Homo sapiens: one gene and its partner. The protein of the gene in region 2 purifies or fractionates together with the protein of the main gene of each other region. This does not show direct contact. Each region holds a gene or a part of one and is shown on either strand. Other genes may lie near its edges.

The links. The genes of interacting proteins can lie anywhere in the genome.
Region 1: the proteins of CHRDL2 (region 2) and RMND5A purify together in Homo sapiens (affinity purification with mass spectrometry; one large-scale study listed by BioGRID and IntAct). This does not show direct contact.

What each region holds. Positions count from the first base shown.
Region 1 is NC_000002.12:86,753,890-86,758,821, forward strand, and holds part of RMND5A (E3 ubiquitin-protein transferase RMND5A), read left to right. Parts: intron 1-4,932.
Region 2 is NC_000011.10:74,727,769-74,733,228, reverse strand, and holds the start of CHRDL2 (chordin-like protein 2 isoform 2 precursor), read left to right. Parts: upstream 1-1,802; 5' UTR 1,803-2,340; coding exon 2,341-2,422; intron 2,423-5,460. UniProt on the Homo sapiens protein: May inhibit BMPs activity by blocking their interaction with their receptors. Has a negative regulator effect on the cartilage formation/regeneration from immature mesenchymal cells, by preventing or reducing the rate of matrix accumulation.

The sequences.
Region 1 (4,932 bases), on a different chromosome or scaffold from region 2:
TTCCTTCATGTGCTGGGTTTTGCTGGGTTTTATGCTAGCATTCTAAGAAATTATTGGTTATTGGAACTAGGTGGTGTGGATGAAGAGAACAAATATTTTTATAAAGCTACTCTATTCTTAATTACTGTGGATTTTGGTAATTGACCATGAACCTCTCATTGATAAGAATTGTCTGAAATTACTCTGTAAGCTATAATAAATATTATTCTAGAGCAGGGTCAGCAAGCTTTTCCATAAAGGACCAAGTAGGAAATATTTTAGGCTTTTCATTTCACATAAGGTCTCTGTCGCATATTCTTCATTTTATTTTACAACCCTTTAAAAATTTAAAAACCCATTCTTGGCCATCTGCTATACAAAACAGGCAGCAAGCTGTATGTGGCCTGTGCCATAGTTTGCTGGCCCCAGTCCTAAAATTTTTTACTGTGAGGATTACCAGGTTATTTGTAATAAATAGCTCATAAAATAAAGGGAAGAAACTGGATTATAGAAGCAGTGATTTGTTGTGAGCTTATAGCTTTGGAATCCTGGTATTTTAAAACCAGAAAAATTAACCATCAGTGTTACAGGGTTAGCTGGGAAGTTGACTTTTATAAAATGTACACTTTTTCCCTTAAAATTTAGTTCCACTAACCCATTTAATTCTTCATAGCTTAGTTTTTTCTTTCTAATCATTTCTCAGTTCTTTCTCCTTTTTGAGACAGGGTCTCACTGTCACCCAGGCTAGAGTGCAGTGGCATAATCATGGCTCACTCCAGCCCCAACCCCCCAACCTCCCGCCTTAGCCTCCTGAGTAGTTGGGACTACAGGACTGTGCCGTTATGCCCAGCTAATTAAAAAAAATTTTTTTTTGTAGAGACAGGATCTCACTATGTTACCCAGGCTGGTTTCGAACTCCTGAGCTCAAGTGATTCTCCCACCTCGGCTTCCCAAAGTGCTGGAATTACAGACTTGAGCCTCTGTACTTGGCCATTTCTCAGTTCTGAGAAAATTTTGTGTAGTTCTAAAACCAGCCCAGATGACTAGACAGAAATTCCTGTATAAATTTATATAAAATTCTTGTATAAATTATAATAGATCTCACTTAAGAACTGTATCTCTGTGTAAGATGCATATTACCTTTGTAGAATTTGTTTAAGCAAATTTCAGATTGTGACACATCTGGGAGATAAATTCAACCAAATACCTCTAACACCTCTTAAACAAAATATGGCAACAACTACTTTTTTTTTTTTTTTTCCCAAAGAGACAGAGTCTTGCTCTGTGGCCCAGGCTAGAGTGCAGTGGGATGATCATAGCTCACTGCACACTCTCAAACTCCTGGGCTTAAGTAATCCTCCTGCCCCGGCCTCCTGAGTAGCTAAGACTACAGGTGCACACCACCACACCTGGCTAATTTTTAAATATTTTATAGAGACAGGATTTCTCTATGTCGCTCAGGCTGGTCTCAAACTTCTGGCCTCAAGTGATCCTCCTGGAGCGTCAGCTGCCCGAAGTACTGGGATTATAGGCATGGGCCAATGTGCCCGAGAAAGCCTACATACATATATGAACATGTAATGGGTTTCCCAGTTGTTTTATAGTGATTAGCAAATAATATTTGGGTTGTTATTCAAGGTAATATTCACTTATCTATGCGTTTCTTAGGTTTTTTCATTAAACTTTGTTCATATGTGCTAGTCATGTACGTACTATGACTATATCTGTAGTCACTGGCACATAGTATTTGCTACCTTAGCCTTCAGAGTACTCCAGACTTTTCTCCTAAGAGCCTTTTAAACTTTGTGCGTATATAAGATATGTTTCTTATTGATAAGCATGTTATGTATATTGATTATTTCTGTAAATTTTGTCTATTATTTGTTGCCTTAAAACAATTCCTCTCAGGCAGAGAGAGGACTTGTTCCATAAGTAAAAATTTTCTCATTTCATGTTTCTGGGAGTAGTGTTTAATATCAGCATGAGGGAATGTAGTGGTAATCATAGTTAACTCTGCTTGAGTGGTTATTGTATGCCTAGCATCGTTCTAAGCATTTTACGTGTCTTAACCTATTCAACCCTCATATTAACCTATGAGGTAAGTCATCTTACAGAGAAGCAATTAGGGCCTAGAAGATCCTCTGTGAAAAAAAGTCAAAAGATTATATGAGAAATGCTTTACATAATAGTCCCCCAGTATTCTCATTTGAGGTTCATTTTAACTTATTAAGTGTATCATCAAGCCAGGTGCAGTGGCTCACACCTGTAAGCCCAGCACTTTGGGAAGCTGAGGTGGGCAGATCGCTTGAGCCCAGGAGTTCGAGACCAGCCTGGGCAACATAGCAAAACCCTATCTCTACAAAAAAATAGAAAAATTAGCTGGGTATGGTGGTGTACGCCTGTAGTCTGAACTACTCAGGAGGCTGAAATGGGAGGATCACTTGAGCCCAGGAGGCGGAGTCTGCAGTGAACCAAGACCACACCACCACTCCAGAGCCGAATCCTGTCTCAAAAAATAAGAAAATAAATAGAAGTAAAAACGTACCATCAGTAATCCTACAGTAAAGAAACTCATTTAACTTGGTATAACCCAGTGTTTTCTCTGTGTATTTGACCAATCTTGTTTTCCCTCCAGATAACACATTTAAAACCCATAAAATTGGAGTTATACAAAACATAAGATTTAATAGAAATCGTCATTACAACAATTCAGATTTTTCCAATTCTTGCCTATTGTGGGTGCAGAGCAGATACTGACTAAGCATCTTTCATGAGCTAGGTACAGAAAATTCCCTTTACTCAACTTACAGCAAAAGTTGAATGATATGGGACTCCAATTTGGGGAATTCTAGTTAAGGTACAAGGCGGGAGATATCTGCCAGTTATGCAGCATCCCATTTGTTCCTGCTGGGAAGGATATCATGGAGCTCACAAGGGAAAAGAGGAAGGAGAGGATGCAGCAATTCCTCCAGACTGCCTATGCGGTGAGAAGGCAGAGGCCAGCCAAAAATTTGAGGTGGCTAGGCCGGGCACGGTGGCTCATGCCTGTAATCCCAGCACTTTGGGAGGCCAAGGCGGGCGAATCATCTGAGGTCAGGAGTTCAAGACGAGCCTGACCAACGTGGAGAAACCCCATCTCTATTAAAAATACAAAATTAGCCAGGTATGGTGGCGCATGCCTGTAATCCCAGCTACTCAGGAAGGCTGAGGCAGGAGAATCGCTTGAACCCGGGAGGCGGAGGTTGCGGTGAGCCAAGATCGCGCCACTGCACTCCAGCCTGGGCAACAAGAGTGAAACTCAGTCTCAAAAAAAAAAAAAAAAAAAAAAAAAAAAAAAAAGTGGAGGTGGCTAAAGGCCATTGAGGGCCTAGGGGAATGGTGATATTGTGGAGAGAAGTGGCAGAACAACACCTGATTACATAGATCTAATCAGGACCTTGCCTGCTCCTGTGTTCCGTGCCCTTGTACCTCTGAGTTTGTACAGATTTTCCCCCTCATCCAGATTTCTTTTATGCTCACCCAGATTGTTTTATTTGCTTTTTGAATTTCTCTTGGCGCCTAGAGTAGTGCTTACCTCATAGTAGGCCCTCAATGAATAACAGTAATCTGCAGGAGAATTTAGAGCAAACTTGTCATCCTCTTCCATGGTGGCAGATAGAAAGCCAAAAATAGTGTTAACGAGAGAATAGTAACTTAATACAACGAGGTGGGGGAAATATTAGAAAAAATAGGAACTGTCCTTGTAGCTATGCCATTATTAACATACATATTGAAAGAAAGCACTATCTTTAGGGGAAGCTACTTGGTTGCCTTCCTAAACGTGTCTCAAAGAGTAATACTACCTTGCTGGATTTGCCACAGTCTAGTATCTGACTTTCAGCTTTGCAGACTTGGAAACTTGTTTTTGGTGTCCTTATTTTGTTTTGTTTTCACTAAGAACAGGCCTTTAAAAACGATAAAAACCTGAATTGCTAAGCTGCGTACATAGTTTGGATTATTAGGGGCTGTGAAACAAGCTTGTGGTAGGCAGGTCCATGTGGAAGGCACATGAGCTTGCAAAGCCTGGAGTTGGAACAAGAGGAGATTGTTCTAGAAAATGTTCAAAGTTCTCAGGCTAAAATGTCCTGATGCCATTATGTCCACCATGGAGGTTGTGTTGCAGAGCCGTTGGGCAGTTCAGACTTCATTCACTGACTCCTTTTCTCAAAATTGTCCTTGGCTTGCCTTGGTCGAGTTTTGAGTCAGCATTAAGTATCCCAATAGGTAATAAATAAGAGTACAAAATCAAAAGGCACAACAAGATAAAAATACAGTGAAAAGTAAATCTCCCCACCTTTGCCTTCTAATCACAGTTACTCTCCAAACAGGCAGCCACCATTAACTGTATTATGTATACGTACATTTTTATGCACAAGTGGTTGCATACTATACACAGTGTTCTGCTTTTTACTTGAAAAATTTTGAAGTATTTGCCTATATCAGAGCATATAGAACTATTTTTTTTTTTTGGTGGCTGCTTAGTGTTCTCTTTTAGGGATTATACCTTAATTTTATTTAGCCAGTTCCTATGGATGGACGTTTGTAGTTTCCGATATTTTGCTTTATAAGTGATGCAGCATTGAATATCCGTTGCACATTATTTTGAGCATGCCTGCTAGATATGTTGTCCAATATGGTGACCACTCCTATGTGTAGCTCTTACTAATCTCTGCATTACTGAGAACCTCATGTAAAAGGGTGTGTGTGTGTGTCTTAAATAGAGTCAGATATGCAATACCATAGTTTGTGTGGTTTCTTAAATAGCATGTGAAAAGGACAGAGACTCACACCAACTCTGAGATGAGTTTAATGGTAGTAGTTCCAGCAGTGGACTCAGCCCATAGCTGAAAAATTACCATTTGAAAATATCTAAGAAATGAAACACTGAGTGTTCTTTTCAGTCTCTAAAGCAAA
Region 2 (5,460 bases):
AACTCCATCTCAAAAAAAAAAAAAAAAGGAATGAAGTTGGCCTCAACTCTGGGGATAATAGGGATGGACAGGAGGGCTGAGATGGTGGAGGCCTTTTTTGAAGTATGATGGGCAGGATGTAGGGGAACCCATCTTAATCCACTTCTTACATCTAAGACATGAATATATGTGCACAGCACATTTTAAACAAAGAGAAAGGAAAAGATCACTGTCCCAAACCCTTGGGATGAGATTGTTTATGCAATTAAGCAGCACAGGATTTAACTCTGAGATCCCTGGAAGCAAAGGCAAAAAGGGAAGCATGGTGACATGCATAAGCTTGCACTATCTGTTAAAATAAAGAATACTCAGGGGAAAGGAAGAGACTGGCCAGATTAGAGTAGAAATTAAGCCTGAAGGGCACTGGACAGATCATGTTTGTCCCTGATCCTGAGAGCCCTAGGAAGGGCCAGTTTGGGGATCACTGGTTCCTCCTACTGCTCTCTTTTGGAGGGTGGAGATCTTGGGGGTAATACCCTGAAAGCACAGTGCAATGGGGAGCCCAGCCTTGGCCCAGAAAGATACCTTTACAGCCAGCCAGCCAAGTGTTTAAACCCGGAAATATGATTCCCTACCAGAGTGGGATATGGCTCAACATCCCTTCCCACCTCATACTCCTCTGGCACTCTTTGGAGTCTCCATTAGCTCTTCAAGAGAAGCTGGGCAGAAAGTTGAGGTCCAAAGCAAGGATAGATGTATTTACTCAAAGTGGCCCAACAAGTTACGGATGGAGCCAGGACAGTGACTCTGCCCTTTTGATTTCAGAGCTTGTGTGTTTCTGGTCTGGCCAGAGCTGGCTATTCTCTTCTTAGTGTCCTATTAGTGCATGTGTTCATTCAACACAAGAGATGGAGCACCATTTGAGGGCTGGAGGGTGTCAGGGCCCTGTCCTCAGGGAGCTCCCCTTCTGGTGGGAAAGAAAACTCTTTGACAATCAGCTCTCCCTAAAGATGACTGAAGGTGACCATCACTCCCAGAGAAGTGCAGGCCTCACCTGCAAAGGCAAAGGAGAGATCTTGCCTTGATTCGGGAGTGGGAGCGGGGAGCAGAGGAAGACCTCCAGGGGAAGGCACAGGATCCCTATGGGCTGACTTTCCTGAGAATGGCGCATGGGCAGACGGAGTGGGGACAGGGGCCACTGGTATTGTAGGCACCTGGAATTAGGACCCCTTCTCTTTGTGGGGTGAGTGTTTCGACGTTCATTACCTTATTTCATCTTAGCAACACTCGTGGGAAGATAGTAGAGATATTTTAAGATCTTAAAATGCCCATTTTAAAGCTGGGAAAACAGACTCTCCGGTGGCGTGCTGTAGACCACAAACTGAATTAAGAACGCCAGTGTTCTGATTCCATCCATCTGCGGAGTTCCGGGCACGCACCGCCGAGCGCCTTACCCTGAGCCTTCCCGGTACCCGCAGCCCCGACAGCTCAGCCTTCCCCACCTGAAAGTTCCACCTGAGGTCTCCCTCAACTCTGCCCTCCTGCATTCTTGGCGTCGCGGGGAGTCAGGGGTTAAACCCCGTGGCCCGCGTGGCCCCTTCCCCCTCCGCAGCCCCCTCGCCTCCACTCGGCGCCGCGCCTGGAGCGTCCGTCCCGGAGACCCGCACAAGAGAGGAGGGGAAAAAGTGGGCCTGTTTCTCGGGTGGCCAATCCACCGAGCCCGCGGTGCCCCAGAGGAGGCGCCAGCGCTAGGCCAGCGCCAGGCCGGGCTGCCTGCTTCCCGCGGCAAAGTACAAATGCGCCCGAGCGCGGCGCCTGAAGCCCTTGGCGAGCACAGCCGGCCCGCGCTCAGCCTCCCTCCGCGGCCGCCGCGCCGCCGCCGCTGCTGGGACCGCCGCCCCGCCGGGCCCCAGGCCCCCGCGGCCCGACCCCGAGCCCACCGAGCAGGGGGCGCCGGCCGCCTCTAGCCCGCGCGCCCGCAACACCCGCTGGTCCCGCGCGCCTCGCCCGGCGCTGCGCGCTCGGCAGACGCCGGTCCTCTCCCTGCTTTCTCCTCCTCTCCCTCTCACCTTCCCCCTTTCTTTGATCGCCTCTCCCTTCTGCTGGACCTTCCTTCGTCTCTCCATCTCTCCCTCCTTTCCCCGCGTTCTCTTTCCACCTTTCTCTTCTTCCCACCTTAGACCTCCCTTCCTGCCCTCCTTTCCTGCCCACCGCTGCTTCCTGGCCCTTCTCCGACCCCGCTCTAGCAGCAGACCTCCTGGGGTCTGTGGGTTGATCTGTGGCCCCTGTGCCTCCGTGTCCTTTTCGTCTCCCTTCCTCCCGACTCCGCTCCCGGACCAGCGGCCTGACCCTGGGGAAAGGATGGTTCCCGAGGTGAGGGTCCTCTCCTCCTTGCTGGGACTCGCGCTGCTCTGGTTCCCCCTGGACTCCCACGCTCGAGCCCGTAAGTAGACCGGGAGGCTGGGTGGGCAGAGGAGGGATGCGGCCCCTGGAATGTGAGGGACAGCGCCAGGACCTGGACCCCAAGCTCTTCTGACAGCCGTCCAGGCAGCACCTGTGCCGGAGGGGTGGAGACTCCGTGAGGACCAGTATGGGCCGGGGGACCGGAGGAACTCGGCACAACTCAGAACTGAGAGAGGGCTGCTGCCAGGGACCTGAGGAGGGGCACCAAGGGCAGCGGGGGGAGAGGGCAGGGCACTGTGTTTTGGGTTGGGGGAGGACTTACTGTTCCTAGGAGGGAGTCGGGTATGTCTGGCTACAGGTAAGGAGTGTGATGGAGAAGAAAAGGCTTTTTGCCTTTGGAAAGAGCCATTGGACAGAAATGAGAGGTAATTAGGATAACCTTCCCATTCTTTTCTCTCTTTTGATCCTCGCAACTCTCCAGTGAGGTGGGTATTATCATTCGCACTTTACAGATGAGAAAACTTAGGCTGAGCAAGGAGGAACTTGCTAAAACTTACAGAGCGGGTAAGCCATCCAAAGCCAGAACTCTAGTTCCAGATCCCATGCTTTATTCCCTGCCTCACATTGTCTAGAAGGAACCCTGAATTTGCAGTGTGAGACTCTGGGAGGCGGCAGGGCACAGTGAGATAGACCAGCGTCTTCACCATCCCAGCCCCGCTGAATGCCAGCTGCTGGGAGGCCGTCACAGAGTGCACCTCTCTGACCCTGGGTTTCCTAATCTATAAAGCGGAAGTAAAAATCCTAGGAGAGTTGATAGGATTAAATTAGAGAAAAGAGGTAAAGCAGCTAGCACAAGACTGGTGCTTGATAGCTTCCAAAAAAAATCAGTTCCCAATTATGCTTTTCCACATAGATACAGTGTAACATCAAACAGGTTACATCATCAATCTGAGCCTCAGTTTCCTCACTGCGCCCACAATAGGCTGGTGGTCCCCCCTCCCCATGCCCAGCCAATCTCTTAGAATGCTGTGAGGATGGAAAACCAAACCACATTCTCTTAATCAGAAGAAAGGAGCTTCATTCAAGCAGTGGGTTTCTCCAGGACATACATGGCACAGCCTGGGATTAAGACCCTGCGTTCCCAACTCCTAGTCTGGTGCTCTTTCCTCTCCCCAGCTCAGCTCCTCCATCTATGCCTTTCTTTTGCACGTGACATTCTGGAGCTGGTAGTGCTGGACTTTGTTACGGTCTTGTTTCTGCTCATGAGAGCAGGCTGAGTGTCTCTGGCCTGCCAGCAGCATGAGACTCACATAAGTCTTTCCATTACATAGAACAAGTAATGGAATTAGCTCAGTGTTGTATTCAAATCCTGGCCGTGCCCCTTAGAGCTGTGTGACTTTTTGTAAGTCATAACTTCTCTGAGCCTCAATTTCCTAATCTGTCTAAGAGAGATACTAATCCAGAACTTGCAGGGTTCTTGGGAGGATTAAAGGAGGTAACGGATTAAAGTGCCCAGCACAATGCTGTGTACTTAATAAATGTCTCTTCCGCTTTCTTGAACCCTGAGGGTTTCCTCCTAACACCTGCCTCCTATTTCTTAAAAGAGACTTTGCACAGGATGCCCTCCATGCCTGCCTCCCATCCACTTGACACCTTGTTCTTAGTCCCTGCAATTTTTTCTCCAGATATCATTGCCCTTGATGCATCTTGGAAAGATGTCCTAGAACCAGACTGTTATCCTACCCACACCCTGCTTCTTTGCTTCCCATATCTTGTCAGCCTTTCATGGCCTTGCCTAGGTCACACCTCTTCAAGCAAACTCTCCCCGGTGACTTGATCCACTCTGATCTCCCTCGTCTGTGCCTCCCTGGCCTTCAGCTCTGTACCTCTCAGCAGGTCCTGCCAGTATTCCATCTTCCCTACAGCCTTGTAAATACAGATCTCCAGACATGTGAGAAAAAGACTTGGAGCCAACTCATTAGGGTGAGGTGGACTGGCACTCATTGGAGAATGTTAAGATTCCTGGATGTTAGAGCTGGTGAAACTATCAAAAACCATCTGCTTCTACCCATCAATATACCTATACTTAGAGTTAAATTGAAGCCCAGAAGAGAAGAGTGACTTGCCCAAGGTCACACAGCAAATTTATTAAAGAAAAGAACAAAAGCCAGGCACAGTGGTACACACCTGTAGTTCCAGTCACCAGCTACTTGGGAGGCTGAGAGGGAGAGGAACCCTTGAGCTCAGGAGTTCAAGGCTAGCCTGGGGAACATGGTGAGACCTCATCTCTTAAAAAACAACAACAACAACAACAACAAAAAACAGAACAGACCTGGGTCCTGGACCCTGATTTGTCACTTATTGGCTGTGTGAGTTGGGACAGACCACTTCTTTATCTGAGCCTCATTTTGTTTGGTGCTGACAGCCTATGAATCTAGAAAGGATCCTATAGTCATTTGCCAAGATGCTATTTGAAGGTCTCTTACAAAGGTCCTCATCTTAGTTTAAGTGAGATCTCAAGCCTGTTGTGGGTCAGAAATCTGGTGATATCTTAGGTGCTTTCAGAAACAGTGCTAACGGATGGAAATGTTCAAGTCTGTGTGGTATCAGGCTCCTGAGGTGTCGGAGCCCTGAAGAATGCCAAGGGCCTGTGAACACAGGTAACAGTTTGCTCCTCAGGCTATTCAAACAAAAAGTATTCTCTCTTTGGTTCTATTTCCAGCCATAGATTGAGCCCTAATCCCAATACAGACTAAGTTGCAATTCCAGCCACAAGCCAAGCCCTAGTCCTCCAACCTTGGCCACAGGTTGAACACCAATTCCACCCCTATACAAGACCCCTTACCCAGGCTGGGTCCCTGACCTGGTTACTGACCAGTACTGGTCCCAGCCCCAGGCTGAGCCACAGACATGTGTGATGCTGGTCACTCTAGACACTCGGCTCTTTGTGGATGAGTGTCCACCAGAGGCCTACTATCTTCTTACCTCCCTCTTCAGTGCTTTCTGCCCTACTCCTCTCAGCTCCTCTCTTTGGTTCTCTTCCCTAATTGTCCCTTGTAGGTGTCTAGTATGCTCTGC